Homo sapiens: one gene and its partners. The protein of the gene in region 3 purifies or fractionates together with the protein of the main gene of each other region. This does not show direct contact. Each region holds a gene or a part of one and is shown on either strand. Other genes may lie near its edges.

Region 1 (3,656 bases), on a different chromosome or scaffold from region 3:
CAGACGAAACTTGTACAGCTTTTAGGAGGAGTAGCAGAAAAAGTAAGGCAGGCTAGTGGATCAGCCAGACAGGTATGTACCCATAAAAGGTAATATAAATGTGTTAATGTTAAAGGAAGGATCTTTATGGTGCTGACTAATTAAGTTGCTATTCTTTATTGGTAGACTCCCAGTAGAACTCTAACTATACCCATGCTATTTGGGGCAGATAAATTCAAAGATTGTTTAAAATATATAGGAACATATTTCACAACCTATTAAAATCAGTGATTTTCCCATGCTTATTTATTTCCATGCTTATTTATTCCTTTCTGATGAAAATTGTTTTCTTGAATTCCTTTACCTCCACTATCAAAGTCCACAGTATTTTCATCACACCAAAAAGAAAGCATGTCCCCATTTTCCCCTCCCAGCCACTAAACTGTTTTCTGTCAATATGGATACGTCTATACTTCTATATGGATATTCTGGACACTTCATGGACTTTTCTGTCTAGTTTCTTTCACTTAGCATAAAGTTTTCAGAGTTCATCTGTGTTCTAGCATGTGTACTACATGCCATTTTTGGTTGAATAATATTCCATTGTGTGGATATACCACATTTGGTTTAAACATTCATCAGTTGGTGGACATTTGGGTTGTTTCCACTTTTTGACTATTAATAATAATACTGCTGGCCAGGCGTGGTGGCTCATGCCTGTAATCCCAGCACTTTGGGAGGCCCAGGCGGGCAGATCACGAGGTCAGGAGATCGAGACCATCCTGGTTAACATGGTGAAACCCCGTCTCTACTAAAAATACAAAAAATTAGCCAGGCATGGTGGCGGGCGCCTGCAGTCCCAGCTGCTCGGGAGGCTGAGGCAGGAGAATGGCGTGAACCCGGGAGGCGGAGCTTGCAGTGAACCGAGATCGAGCCACTATACTCCAGCCTGGGCGACAGAGCAAGACTCTGTCTCAAAAAAAAAAAAAGAATACTGCTATGAATATTCATGTATAAATTTGTGTTTAAACAACTGTTTCCACTTAGGAATGGCAGAGCTAGGTCATATGGTAGTTCTGTGCTTAACTTTTTGGGGAATCATAGAATTATTGTCTGTAGCAGCTATATCACTTTACATTCCCACCAGCAATATAGAAGGGTTCCAGTTTCACCACATCCTCACCAACATTGTTTTTTTTCCTGTTTTTTGATTATGGCCATTCTAGTGGGTGTGAAGCAGTATCTCGTTGTGGTTTTGAGTTGAATTTCCCTAGTGACTAATGATATTGAGCACATTCTCATATGTTTATTGGCCATTTGTATTCTTTGGAGAAATATCTATTCAAAGTCCTTTGTCCATTTTAAATTGGAATGTCTTTTTTGTTGTTGAGTTGTAAGAGTTATTTATATATTTTGGATACTAGACCTTTATCACATACACTATTTGCAAATATTTTTTTCATTCTGCAGTTGTCTTTTTAATTCCTTAATAGTGTCCTTTAATATATTAATACAAAAATGTTTAAGTTTGATGAAGTCCAGTTTATCTATTTTTTTCTTTTGTGGCTCATGCTTTTAGTGTCATATCTAAGAATCCATCATTAAATCTAATGCCATAAAGATGTACACCTGTGTTTTCTTCTAAGCTTTTCTAGTTTTAGCTCTTATGTTTAGGTCTTTGATCCGTTGTGGTATGAAGTAGAGGCCCAACTTTATTCTTTTGAATGAGGTTATCCAGTTGTCTTAGCACCATTTGTTAAAGAGACCCCCTCCTTCCTCTTGAATGGTTTTGGCGTACTTGTCAAAAATCAGTTGACCCTGTGCTTGCTTCGGTAACACATATACTAAAATTGGAATGATACAGAGAAGATTAGCATGCCCCCTACACTACGATGACATGCAAATTCGTGAAGTGTTCTGTTAAAAATTTTTAAATAAAAAAGTTGACCACATATATGGGTTTTTTTCTAGACTCTCAATTCTATATCATATATGTCTATCCATATGCTATATTTGTTTTTTTTTTTTTTTTCCTTTTTTTCCTTGAGATGAGGTCTCTCTGTTGCCCAGGCTGGAGTGCAGTGGTGTGATCACAATTCACCACAGCCTCAGCCTCCTGGGCTCAAGTGATCTTCTCGCTTCAGCCTCCCAAGTAGCTGGGACCACAGGTGTTTGCCACCATGCCTGTCTTTTTTTTTTTTTTTTTTTTTTCTTGTAGGGACAGGGTTTTGCCATGTTTCCCAGGCTGGTCTTGAACTCCTGGGCTCAAGCAGTCCTCCCATTTTGGCCTCCCAAAGTCCTAGGATTATAGATATGAGCCATCCACCCAGCCTATACTTTTTTTAATTACCATAGTTTTATAGTAAGTTTTGAAATTGGACAATGTAAGTCCTCCTACTTTGTTCTTTTTCATTATTATTTTTGGCTATTCAGGGGACACTTGCAATTTCATATGAATTTTAGGAACCGTGTATCCATTGCTGCAAAAAGGCAGTTGGAATTTTGATAAGAATTATAGATTAATTTGGGGAAATATTACATACAATCTTAATTATAAACTATTACCTCTATATACATTGTTTACCTGTTTTCTCTTTACTAAACAATACTGCAATGAACTTTGGTTGGTGTGTACATTTTTATTTCTTTGCTAGTATTTCTTTCAGAAAATTCCTACAGGTGAAATAGCTGAGTCAAGAGCGACATGTATTTTTAGTTATAATAGTTGTTACATTGCTCTACAAAAGAAGCTACACCTGTGTACACCTCTCTCCCTACCAATAAGTTATGAAATCGTTTCCTAACACAGGATGTTGTTTTAAATTTTCATCTGATAGGTGAAAAACTGCATTCATTTTTGTTTGGCTTCTATTTCTTTGACTATTAGTGAGCTTTAACATTTTCGTATACATTGGTTGGCCAAATGTACCTTTGCCCACTATATTTATAGCCTTTGGCCATTCTAGTTTTATAGTAAAAATTAACTCTCTTTAGTAACAACCTTTTTTTCACCGTTTGACAACTGGGCATTTTATAAATTGTATCCACAGCATAACTTGTCTGAAAAATAGATCTTCATTTTCATTATGTACTTACAGTATCACATCTCTTTCTATAGGTTGTTCTCCAAAGAAGTATGGAACGAGTACAGTCCTTTTTTCAGAAAAATAAATGCCGTCTCCCTCTCAAGCCAAGTCTAGTGGCAAAAGAATTAAATATTAAGGTGACACATAAAATACTTATAAGTTCATATTACATTTGAAAATAATAGGAAGAAGGCAAATGGGCAGGTATGCTTAAGGCAAATGAAGGTAAAACCTGCACAGGTTGGTTATAAGCATGGATGGTTGTGATTAGGATCCATATTTATCTTAGCATATTTTTTTACCTAACCACCATTCCTGGGAAAAAAAAAGTATAAAATTATTTACTGCCTTGGGCTTCATTTTTTTAAATTGGTCTCACCTTTTTATTTATTTATTTATTTATTTATTTATTTATTTTTTGAGACAAAGTCTCACTCTTGCCCAAGCTGGAGTGCAGTGGTGCGATCTTGGCTCACTGCAACCTCCACCTCCCAAGTTCAAGCGATTCTCCTGCCTCATCCTCCTGAGTAGCTGGGACTACAGGCACACGCCACCATGCCCAGCTAATTTTTGTATTTTTAGTAGAGATGG
Region 2 (3,656 bases), on a different chromosome or scaffold from region 3:
TAGAAGTCAGAATAATAGTTATCTGCAAAGGGTCAAGGGTAGTACTTACTAGAAAGAAGCACAAAGGGGACTTTTGACATGCTAAGAATGTTCTGTTTTTTTTATCTGGGTGCTGTAAGTGATTTCAGCTTGTGAAATTTATGACAGCTGCACTTTCCTACAGGGTTTTTTTATTTCTATAAAAAGGTTAAAAAATTAGTTAAGGGTAACCATCAAAACAATAATAAATTAAAAGTATATCTTCCAAATCAGCAGAATTTAAAAAAGAGAGAGAGAGGGATAAAGAAATTTAATCTAATGGGAAAAGAAGAAGAAAAAAGGAAAAAAAGGAATATTTCAACACAGCTAAAAGAACTTTAAATGTTCCCAACACATAAAAATGATAAAAGCTTGAGATGCTGGATACCCCATATACCCTAACTTAAATCATTTATGCATGTAACAAAACATCACATATACCCCATAAGTATGTACAAATATGTATCAATAAAAAAAATTTTTAAATATGCATTTAAAAAAAAGAAAAAAGGAAAAAACATGATATAAAGAAAGTCCAAAATAAGGCCAGGCGTGGTGGCTCATGCCTGTAATCCTAGCACTTTGGCAAGCCAAGGCGGGCGGATCACCTGAGGCCAGGAGTTTGAGATCAGCCTAGCCAACAAGGCAAAACACCATCTCTACTAAAAATACAAAAAATTAGCTGGGCATGGTGGCGTATGCCTGTAGTCCCAGCTACTCGGGAGGCTGAGGCACAAGCATCACTTGAACCTGAGAGGCGGAGGTTGCGGTGAGCCGACACTGCACCACTGCATTCCAGCCTGGACGACAGAGTGAGACTCTGTCTCAAAAAAAAGAAAGAAAGTACAAAATAAAATAATAACACAAATATGCAGTGACTACAATAAATATAAATGGATCAAAATGACAAGTTAAAAGTGGGAGATTCTCAGTAAGATTTTTAAAAATCTAGCTGAATATAACATAACGGTTTTTAAAAATTATAAAAGATCACAGAAAGTTTGATGTATAGGGATGGAAAAATTATAAGCCTGGCAAACATCAGTCAAAAGAAGGCTGGTGTAGCTACATTATCATCAAACAAAAAAGATTTTAAGACAAAATTCACTATTGGAAATCATGAAGACAACTTCAAAATGATAATAGAAACAATTCACCAGAAAGATATATAACAATTCTAAGATTAAATATATCAATAAGATAGCCTCAAAATTAATACAATTAAAAGAAGAAACTGGCTGGGTGCAGTGACTTACACTTGTAATCCCAGCACTTTGTGGGGCTGAGGTGGGCAGATTGCTTGATCCCAGCAGTTCAAGACCAGTCTGGGAAACATTGCAAAACCCAGTCCCTACAAAAAATACAAAAATTACCAGGCATGGCCGTGCGTGCCTGTAGTCCCAGCTACTTGGGAGGCTGAGGTAGGAGAATCAGTTGAGCCCAGAAGATTAAGGTTGCAGTGGGCTGTGATTGCACTGCTGCACTACAGCCTGGGCAAGACCCCGTCTCAAAAAACAACAAAAAAGGAGAAACTGATCAATCTACAAGCATACTAGGAGAGTTCAATATACCTTCCTTGATAACCGATAAGTAAGCAAATAAAAAAACAGAAAAGTTGATCAATAAAATTAGTCAATTTGATCTAATACAATACACCCAAGAAAAAAAGAATACACATTATTCTCAAGCACACTTGGACCTTCTATGAAACAACCATGTTTTACACACAAATCAAATCTCAACAAAAATAAAAGAATCTATATCATATAGAACATGCCTTCTGAACAGAGTAGAATTAAGCTAACCCCAAAACAACCATTTGTTTGAAAAACTTTAAACACTTCTTAATAAACACTCATGGGCTATAAAGAAATGCATAATGGAAATGTTTAAATATTGAGAAATGACCATAATAAAAATATTCAATGTCAAAAACTCAAGTCAGACACGATGGCTCAACACCTGTGATCCCAGCGCTCTGGAAGGCCAAGGCGAGAGGATCACTTGAGCCCAGGAGTTCAAGGTTACAGTGAGGTATGATTGTGCCACTGCACTCCAGCCTAGGCAACAAAGCAAGACCTTATCTCTAAAATAAATAAACAACCTTATAGGAAGCATTTAAAGTTGTATTTAGACAGAAACTTCTAACCTTAATACTTTAAAAACAAAACAAAACAAAACAGGCTGGGCGTGGTGACTCATGCCTGTAATTCCAGCACTTTGGGAGCCCAAGGTGGGCGGATCACCCAAGGTCAAAAGTTCGAGACCAGCCTGGCCAACATGGCGAAATCCCATCTCTACTAAAAAAAAAAATACAAAAATTAGCTGGGCGTGGTGGCAAGTGCCTATAGTCCCAGCTACTTGGGAGGCTGAGGCAGGAGAATTGCTTGAACCCAGGAGGACAAGGCTGCAGTGAGCTGAGATCATGCCACTGCACTCCAGTCTGGGTGACAGAGGGAGACTCCATCTCAAAAAAACAATAAGAAATAAAAATAAAGAAGAAAGTATTATGCACAATGGTAAGATATGAAAACAACCAAAGTGTCTGTGGATAGAGAAATGATGTGGGTGCATGTATGGGTGTGTGTGTTTGTGTATAAAGTGGCATATTATTCAACCTTAAAAAACGAGACCTTGCCATTTGCCATGGATGAACCCGGAGGACATTACACTAAGCAAAATAAGCCACACACAGAAAAATACTGCATGATTATACTTGTATGCAGAATCTCAGGGTTGGGGTTTGCTTGTTTGTATTTTAGACAGGGCCTCACTCTGTCACCCAGACTGGAGTGCAGTGGTGCGATCTCAGCTCACTACAGGCCTCAACCTCCCTGGGCTCTGGTGATTCTCCCATCTCAGCATCCTGAATAGCTGGGACTACAGGCGCATGCCACCATGCCTGGCTAATTTTTGTATTTTTTTTGTAGAGAAGAGGTTTCACCACATTGCCCAGACTGATCTTGAACTCCTGGGCTCAAGTGATCCACCCGCCTCGGCCTCCCAAAGTGCTGGAATTATGAGCATGAGCCACCATGCCTAACCACATGCGGAATCTACAAAAAAGATGAATACACACAGAGAATAAAATAATACTTAGCAGGGGTCAGCGGGGTGGGGTGGTGGTGGTGGTGAGGAAATGGAGAGATATAAATCAAAGGATACAAAGTAGTAGATATGTAGGATGAACAAGTCTGGAGATCTAATGTACAATAGGAGGACTATAGTTAGTAATATTGTATTATACTCTGGATTTTTTGCTAAGACAGATTTTATGTGCTTTCGCAAAAAAAAAAAAAAGGAGGTAACTATGTAAGATAATGGATATGTTAATTTGCATGTATGTAACCATATCACTGCATGTATATCAAAGCATCATGTTTATAATAAAATTTTTCAAAGAAAAAAAGAAAACAGGAAAGACCAAAAATTAATGAACTAATTGTCCAACTCAGAGGATAGAAACAGAACAAGTACACAGGAGAAAGTAAATAATAAAGAACAGAAATCATAAAATTGCAAAAAAGAGAGATCAAAAAATTAAAGACTCTTTTAAAAGGTTTATAACTTCTGTCAAGAACAATTAAGAAAAGAAGAAAGTAGATGCAGATAAATAATATTAAGAAAGAAAAAATGGA
Region 3 (2,928 bases):
GGACCGAGTTGCGAGATTCGGAGAGGCTGGAAGAGGGTCTGGGCTGGGGTGGTGCGAGGAGTGAGCAGTGGGCTTGGGAGAAGGAGGCGGCGCTCGGTGAGCCCAGGTGGGCTCATTTCTAACCCTGGAAATCCGGAATTGGCCCCGCGGGCCTGGAGCCAGACCCCTCAGGGAGGCGGTCGGGAAAGCTCGCGGGCGCTCCAAGGCGGTGGGCGTGGGGGTGGTGTCCGGTGGCCCCGGGCGGCTCCGGCCACAGCTAATGTCCCGGTGCTGTGTGCATGGGGTGGAAGCGTCACGTGGAGTAATTCGGTCGCCGCTTGGAGGCGGTGGCGCTGGCGTGGGTCCCAGGCTTGGGCATCGCCTTGCGCCGCGCGCCAGGGTCGTGGGTCGGGGGCTCCCTGAGGCCAGAGGCTACAGGGGCGCGGGGAAGACAGCTGGGGTCGCCGCGCCAGGATGTGGGGCTGCTGGCAGGTGACACCCGCCCGTGGAGCCGAAATCAACAGGCGGTCGCCCTTCACTCTCACCCGCAGGCGCTGGCCAGACGCGGGTAGCTGAGTCCCGCGCGGAAGGGCGGCCGCGGCGGCGCGGGTGGCCCGGGAGGCCGGCGAGCTAGGCCTGTTTCTTCAGGGCGCAGAAAGTCCCGGGCCAAGGAGCCGGAGGGAGATCTCAGAGCCTGCGGCGTGCGTCCGGGCAGCTGGAATCCCACCTTCTCCGTCTTTTTTTTCCTCCCCCCTCCCACCCTCCACCTTCCCTTCTTTTGCTCTCCTCTCCTTTTCTCCTTCCGCATTCTCTCCTGGGAGATAGTGTCATTGCAGCCCCTGGCCTTGGAATAAACCGTCCGTTTAAGCGAAACCACCGAATCCACGCCACTGGGCCGTGGGGCTTGAGGTCTCCACGCCGGCCTGTGGACCCCGGCCCGGCCCGGCCCCTCGGGGAATATCTGGACTCGGTCTTTTCCCCCCAGTCGGTTCCCTGCCCCAGGAAAGCCCTCTCTGCGGGGTCCAGCTTCCGCCCGCGCCCTCTGCCCACTTCCCCGCCGCGGCCCATCCGGGTCCCGTGGGTACCGCGCCCCTCAGCTGCCCCGGCGACAAGCGGCGGGAGACGCTGCCCGAGGCGCCGCGCACAGCTCCCGAGGCCATGACCGCGCTGTTTGCTCTCCCTGCAGGCTCTTTTCCACAATGGCCCCCCTGACCAGCGCGTCGACCGCGGCCGCGCTCCTGAGACAGCCCACACCCGCCGTGGAGGGCGCAGTGGCATCGGGCGCCCTGGCCGACCCGGCCACGGCGGCCGCAGACAGACGCGCCTCTAGCATAGCCGCGCTGAGGCTCAAGGCCAAGGAGCACGCGGCGCAGCTCACGCAGCTCAACATCCTGCCGGGCACCAGCACGGGCAAGGAGGTGTGCTAAAGGCTGCCCTCCACACCCGCGCCCCGCGCGCGCCCCGAAAGGTCACCTCACTCAGCACCACTCAAGACCAAATGGAAACAGAGGACCAGCACACTCCCGAGACGGCACTGAGAGAGCGCAGCCGCCTTCACAGCAGTCTGGATGCGGGCATGGCAGCCCTCGGCGCTCCGGGACGTGGCACCTCCTCGGCTGGCTGTCCACCCGCCCCTGCCCCTGCCCCTGCTACTGCCAACCTCGCTCCAACTCCAACATCCACTCTCTCTTGTTCTTACTTTCCTGAAAATATCGGGGAGGTTTTCTCCCCCAGACGCCTGATATTGAAGTAAAAAATTTAAAAAGCCCAACCTCTTCCTCCTGACACCCCACTTAGCCTTTCTTTTCTTTCTTTCTTTCTTTCTTTTTTTTTTTTAAATAGCATTTTGGCGCTCGAAGTTGATCTCCCCAGCGAGGGCCCCAGCGTGAAGCCAGGGCCCGGGAAGCAAATGCGAGCCTGTAAGATAGCTAACAGTGCACTTAAAGGAAAGGGGCGTCTTGTTCTTGTTCTCTTCTTTATCATACACCAACCAAGGTTTTTATATCAAACCAAAGGGAAATAATACTCTGCTAGAATATGGACTGTTGAAGTCACCAAACTGTGATTATTGATTCTGTACATACCATTGTTATTAAAAAAAAAAAAAAAAGAACAGAGCTTTGTATATTTGAAATGTTATAACGCAATTGCACTCAGCGTGGTATGGTAAAAGTTTGTCCTCCCGTAGATTCTTACTGTGTTGTAGATACGGTAGGGTTCCTAGACAAATATTTATGTACTCAAGCCCTTTATTTAACTTATTAACTGTAGAGGCTTCCGAAACCTTCAAGATAAAGGCAATGGTACAGTACTTTTGTGTAATGTGTAATTGTTACCACTTTTCCTTGCTATCTAGTGGAGAAGTGTCACGCTCAAAATAAAAAAATTATATGTTTAACAAAACGAAGTGTGAATGCTCCATACAGGCGCTGAGGGGACAGTAGAAGCCCCCACCCCCACCCCCCGGGAGTCAAGGGTGGGCTCCAGCGTCCAGGCATCTCCTGGGATTATCTGCACACGCGTTTTCCTGGCAGAGGCCCCTGGTTTGAATCCGATCCTCAAAGGGAACCGGATTTCCTACGAAGGTTAAGGACGCCGCCGCGGTACTTTCCACGCGCACCTGGGCTCTCCCGGGTCGTGTCACAGCGGGAGCTGGGGGTCCCGGGCCACGGAGGTGGGGTGGGTTCCAGGATGGGTGGGTGGATGGTGGGCGTTGTTGACGGTGGAGTCAGAAATTTGAAGCAAGCGGGAGTCTTGGCTCGGAAGGCGAAGGGAGCTGTTGGAAAGTGCCACGTAGCCAGGAAGTGAAGTGCGCAGTCCGAGATGACAGGTAATGGCGAGAGCGAGAAGCCCAGGCGCTCCCTTCCGAGGGGGCGGGCTCCACGGCATGTTCGCAGGGAGGAGGGAGTGTGTGTGTGTATTGTGTTGTGTGTGCGTGTGTGTGTGAGA

What was found.
Region 1: the proteins of ARX (region 3) and PIK3C2A purify together in Homo sapiens (affinity purification with mass spectrometry; one large-scale study listed by BioGRID and IntAct). This does not show direct contact.
Region 2: the proteins of ARX (region 3) and MRRF purify together in Homo sapiens (affinity purification with mass spectrometry; one large-scale study listed by BioGRID and IntAct). This does not show direct contact.

The regions. Positions count from the first base shown.
Region 1 is NC_000011.10:17,113,907-17,117,562, reverse strand, and holds part of PIK3C2A (phosphatidylinositol 4-phosphate 3-kinase C2 domain-containing subunit alpha), read left to right. Parts: coding exon 1-72; intron 73-3,097; coding exon 3,098-3,202; intron 3,203-3,656.
Region 2 is NC_000009.12:122,274,758-122,278,413, reverse strand, and holds part of MRRF (ribosome-recycling factor, mitochondrial isoform 1 precursor), read right to left. Parts: intron 1-3,656. UniProt on the Homo sapiens protein: Responsible for the disassembly of ribosomes from messenger RNA at the termination of mitochondrial protein biosynthesis. Acts in collaboration with GFM2. Promotes mitochondrial ribosome recycling by dissolution of intersubunit contacts.
Region 3 is NC_000023.11:25,003,148-25,006,075, reverse strand, and holds the end of ARX (homeobox protein ARX), read left to right. Parts: intron 1-1,165; coding exon 1,166-1,406; 3' UTR 1,407-2,382; downstream 2,383-2,928. UniProt on the Homo sapiens protein: Transcription factor. Binds to specific sequence motif 5'-TAATTA-3' in regulatory elements of target genes, such as histone demethylase KDM5C. Positively modulates transcription of KDM5C.